Regions from separate parts of the Homo sapiens genome. Here region 1 is linked to region 2. The links come from fine-mapping of genetic effects on gene expression. Tissue or cell type: whole blood. Region 2 holds a variant in brackets; the other region holds the start of a gene. All regions are shown on one strand. Distances are between the middles of the regions.

Region 1 (2,678 bases), 48 kb before region 2:
GGTCAGGTGCTGTGTGTTTTTTTTATGGATGACTCTAGAAAGTTTTCTCTTTCTCTTTCTCTCTCTCTGTCTTTGGTGGTGAAGGTGATTCTTGAAGAAGAGAAGGCTTTAAAAGGGGCACAGGCCGGGCACGGTGGCTGACGCCTATAATCCCAGCACTTTGGGAGGCCAAGGCGGGCGGATCGCCTGAGGTCGGGAGTTCGAGACCAGCCTGACCAACATGGAGAAACCCCGTCTCTACTAAAAATACAACATTAGCTGGGCATGGTGGTGCATGCCTGTAATCCCAGCTACTCGGGAGGCTGAGGCAGGAGAATCGCTTGAATCCGGGAGATGGAGGTTGCAGTGAGCTGAGATCGTGCCATTGCACTCCAGCCTGGGCAACAAGAGCGAAACTCCATCTCAAAATAAATAAATAAATAAATAAATAAATAAATAAATAAATAAATAAATAAATAAAAGAGGTACAGCAGGAGCTGATATTGGGAGGGGAAATAAAGGGAAGTAAGAACTGGTTTGGATGGGAATTAGAAAAAACAAAAAAGTCAGACATCAGGCCAGGCGCTGTGGCTCATGTCTGTAGTCCCAGCACTTTGGGAGGCTGAGACAGGCGGATTGCTTGAGCCCAGAAGTTCAAGACCAGCCTGGATAACATGGTGAGACCCCTGTCTCTATTTAAAACAAAAGATGTAAGGAAAAAAAAGAAAAAAAATGTCAGAGAAGTTCTGGGCCACCTCCCCCATCCCCTACTCCTCCAAAACACACACACACACACACACCTGTCTATAGTCTAAGCAGGTCCTGCTTTTGTAACCCACCCGGGACAGTCCCTGCAACTCCAGCCTGACCTCACTTCCTGCTTCCATAGCTAGTTTGTTTTTCTGACACTTATTGGTAGACACTCCAGATCATTTCATTTTGCTTCCAGTACCCTTTCCACTTCCTAATACAAATGCAAAACAACCTGGGAATCCCCTTTCAGGGGGAAACAACGGTGCAGCTTTAAGAGAAAGAGAAGGGAGGAAGGGGGCGCTGACTCAGATCCTCAGATCCATTGGCTGCTGGAGGGAATCCCACCTCAGGGATTGGGCGTAACAGAGTCCGCCTCCTCTTGTGATTGGCTCAGCCAGAAAAATAAAAGGCGGCTGTGCCGGCCTCCTCCTCAGTTGGAGGGAGGCAGGGAATCTGGCTTGATTGGCGTGCTGAGACGCACCTGGCGCAACCCTCCCTTCTGAATCGAAGTTCAAGTCCCGCGGACACTGCAACCATGAAGGAGAGACGGGCCCCCCAGCCAGTCGTGGCCAGATGTAAGCTCGTTCTGGTCGGGGACGTGCAGTGTGGGAAGACCGCGATGTTGCAAGTGTTAGCGAAGGATTGCTATCCAGAGGTGAGCTGCCCGCCCGCCCGCTGGCCGGCTTTTCTCCCTGCCTGCCCGCCTTGGGGTAGATTTCCACCTGCTCAGGAGACGTGGCTCCCCCAGCCCCAGCCCATCCTCAGCCGCTTTCTGAGGCTTTACCATCCTCAGCTGCTTTTTGGCTGGAGGACTGCCCTGCCTTAGCTTCCCCTGAGACCTGTTCCACTTCTGCCGCCCCGCTGGCTCCTCCTCACCTCTTCACCCAGAGGACCCATCAGATCCCCTCCACCTTCCTGCGTCCCTGGAGTCTGCTCTCAGGTGAGGGCACTGGAGGCATTTGAAAGTCTGGGGTTTCTTCTTGACGTAATCCCTGCCTATCCGCTCACCTGCTCCTCAAAGGCTCTATGCCTGTGCCTTCAGGCAGGCTTCTGCAGCCCCTCTGTTCACCTGGCCGGGAGGGGTTTGAGAGGAGATGAGCTAGGATTGGCTTTGGCCTGTGGCTCTCTCAAATTGGGAAACACAAATCTGGGGATGGGAGGAATCTGTGTGTGTGTGTGTCCCTGATCGCCTAGGATATGGGGGGCTTACCCCTGGTGTGGTGGTGTGGGGGGGTGTCATTCACATTTCTCACTGCTGCAGAGCAAAGTGCCTGGTCCTCCACAGTCCCTTCCCTCCTGCCCCAGGCATCTCCTCTGGTTTCTTGTCTCCTGTGACTTTACTGTCTCTCTGGTGAGTGCGTGTGTAGCCAGCACTAACCAGGGGATCTGAGGGTAGGGGTGCATGGGGTGAATGTTTCCTCTCTTTTCACAGACCTATGTGCCCACCGTGTTCGAAAATTACACAGCCTGTTTGGAGACAGAGGAACAGAGGGTGGAGCTTAGTCTCTGGGATACCTCAGGTAAGAATTCTGCTCCAAATACCCCTTTCCCACCCCTACTGGTCTGCTGTGTAGCTGCTGTCTTTTAGAAATTGTTTTCCCCTTTGGTGGGGAGAAGTGAAAAAAGAGGATCTGAAGACTCATTAGTTGTGGGGAGGGCTGACAGTTGGTGGACTCAGTTGCATGGTCCAAGGGTGCAGAGTGGGTGAACCCCAGGAGCCACTCTCTTCCCTGGGTCTGGTTCCACCCTTTAGAGGGCTGGGATGGTGAGGTGAAGGGACCCATGAATAGTCCTGGGGGTGGGCAGTAAAACAGGACTTCTCCATTTCCATTCCCTACCACCCAACATGCACGCGTACACACATGCACACACACGCGCGCGCGCGCACACACACACACACACACACACACACACACACCTTTTACTTCCCCAGAGCAAAGCCAAAT
Region 2 (2,678 bases):
CGGGCCGCGCCCGGGAGATGCCACCGAGCCCCGCAGCCCTGCGGGCGGCGGCAGGGAGCGAGAGAGCGCGAAGGAGGGAGCGAGCCGCGAAGACCAGCTGCTCGGAGCTCAGATCACCGCTCCCCCCACCCCACCCCCCCAAACCCAGCCGGTCCCACCCCGAGCGCGGCTGAGGAATCTGGCGCCGGCTCCTACAACAATAGTGCCCGCCCACCTGACCCCCTCCCCGGGAGAAGGCGGGGGCGGCGAGGGGGCGGCGGCCACCGGGGAGCCCGGGCCAGGCCGGGAGAGGGGAACGAACCCGTGCTAGGTGGAAGGTGGGTCCCCGAGCACCTACGGGGCCGTGGCGGCGGGGAGGAAGGGGAGGAGAGGCTGCGGGCAGGGCGGATCCAGGCAGGGAGGAGGCGGGGCGAGGAGAGATGCGGAGACAGAGACGCTCGGCAACCCAGGAACTACTCCGCCGGGAAACAAAGGGCTGCGGCGGGGGAGGGAGGGGGCGCTGAGACCGCGAGGGAGACGCGACCCGGGCGGAGACTGGAGAGGGCGCAGGTGTCGAGGAAACCGGAGAGAGAGAGGCAGAGGGAGGACGGAGAGGACAGGAAAATGGGGAGACCGTGGGAGACAGAAGAGGCGCGGGAACGAGCGGCAGACGGGGGAGGGGTCCCAGGCGACAGCAGGGCGGGTCTGGGCCCGTGCGTCCCGGAGGCTCCGAAAGCAAACCCCGCAGTGGTCCCGGGGAGGAATGGGCTTGGTGCCCCCAGGCTAATGACAGGACGGCAGCTCCTGCCCCAACAGGTGCCCGGCCCCCTCAGTACGGGGACGCTGCGGCAAAGGCGGTGTTGCCCAACCCTTGAGAAGGGGGGAACTTTCCGTGAGCTGGGTAGGCCTCCCCACACCTGTTGCACGGATAGATTTTGTCTTAGTCCTGCCAGGATGGGGGTTCCCTTCCCCACTTCCCTGCCAAGGATTGTGCCAGACAGTGCCAAGGCATCCGTGGGAACTGGGGCAGAAAGGGGCTGTTTTAGGTGAGCCTAAAGGGAAGGGGAAAGAAGCCAGAGGGTGGAGGTAGGGGGATAGTTGTGGGTGGGATCCTGGCTACACTCGGGTTGGGAGAGGAAAGGGCCAGTCTCCTCGGAGTCACTAGGGTAAGGCCAGATTCTCCCCTTAGCAGAAGGGCTTGTACCACTCTGCACCACTCAGTCTCCTTTACAGGAGCATTGAGATTTGGGGTAAGAGAGCCGCAGCCCTTATCTTGAGGAAACTTTCCCCAAAGATCCACCCATTTGAGCTCTTTCCTTTTTTCATCTCCTGAGCAAAATTCCTTCTTTGATTTTTGACTGCCTACCTTTGTGCCCCACGAGGAGGATGTGCGTAGACAGGGGTTACACT[T/G]GGAGGCCTCCTGGTGCCCATGCTCTTGGCCCTGAGCTCAGTCCTTTTCCTTCCCAATTTCTCACACCCGGGAGTTCAGCAATCTGCTCATCCCTCCTTGGCTTGAGGAGAATCAGAAATCCAAAACTCTGACATGGCTTAGTAAGATCTATGGTAGAAAGCACTGTGCATGGGAGAGAGAAAGCCCACCCAAACCAAGTGGCTTCCCACCTGGGTCACTTATCGGTGTTATCTTGGCAAGACAAAGAAGAGCTGCATCTTCAGACTGACATCTTTAGTCTGTCTACTGTGGGTGGCCCAGAGCAGCCCTGCCCAGCACCTTCCTCATGCTGGGTTTGACAAACAACTTTGTTGCAGCCCCTGTGGCTGAAGGGACTGTCTCCTCTCCTGAGTCCAGCACCAACTGGGGTTTGGTCATATACTGGATTCTTCTGTATTGGAAGTTCCCAGACACTGCCCACTTTTGTGCCCTCACCCAGTTACGCAGTATTCCTTGTATCCCCCTCTTTCATCCTTTCTCTTCAATTCCTTCTTTCAGGGGCCTGGAGAGGTGTCAAAGAGTAAGACCCTCAAGGTGCTCTTCTCCTGGGAGATGGCTCTAGTGAAGAAAGCAGTGGTGGAGGCAGCTGTTTCTCTTCCCATCCCTGCATCCACTCTCCTGGCCTCTCCTTTTGGGACTCTCTCCACCCACAGAAGGTCCTGGGGCTGTAGGTAACAGCGGATCTGCCATCGGCAGCACTCCTTCCTCACACTCCTTGTAATCTCCTGCGACAAGGTTGTCTAAGTCTGCTCCTGAGGCATGTGTTGCCATGCCAACCATCCCCAGGAGATGGGTTCAAGCTCCTCATACCTGGGCCCATCCCCTGGGTCCTGCAGTAGCTTCAGAGCTTCCCTCCTTCTTCTCATATCTCTGGGTTGCTACCCAATGTTCCTTTCATTTCTCACCCACACCTGCCTACTCTAGTTCTAATACCAACTTGGTGACTTCTTGTCCTGTGACAGGACATGTGCCTGTCAGTGTCCATGTAGCCCTAACCTCTTTTCTTTTTCATGGCTGGGCATAAAGGGAGAGAGCTGAGGGCAATAAAGGATCAGGGGAGAGGCTCCTCCTGCTGATTCTTTCTAGGAGAGAGTTGTTAGACTGGCAGCTGGCAGGTACCCAAGTCATAGAAGCAAGACATAAGAGGAAAAGCCTGAATAATCAGGTTTGGGAGCTGGAATATATTGAAACCTTCTTGGGAGGTTTCAGAATATATTCTAGCTTCTCCTCTAAGTGTACCAGGAAGCTG

The links. PIP is the estimated chance that this variant, and not a neighbour inherited with it, causes the effect.
Region 1: it holds the start of RND1, and the variant in region 2 is fine-mapped to the expression of RND1 in whole blood (TOPMed, PIP above 0.99).

Annotation. Positions count from the first base shown.
Region 1 is chr12:48,864,357-48,867,034 of GRCh38, reverse strand. RND1 (Rho family GTPase 1) reads left to right here and starts at 1,165. Exons shown (of 5, transcript NM_014470.4): 1 at 1,165-1,387; 2 at 2,165-2,252. The coding sequence starts at 1,268. RefSeq lists enhancers at 842-971, 1,232-1,351.
Region 2 is chr12:48,816,182-48,818,859 of GRCh38, reverse strand. It overlaps CACNB3 (calcium voltage-gated channel auxiliary subunit beta 3), which reads right to left and starts at 364. Exons shown (of 13, transcript NM_000725.4): 1 at 1-364. It overlaps LOC101927241 (a long non-coding RNA gene), which reads left to right and starts at 1,928. Exons shown (of 3, transcript XR_245978.4): 1 at 1,928-2,100. RefSeq lists a silencer at 97-566. The variant T/G (reference allele first, on the strand shown) is at 1,390.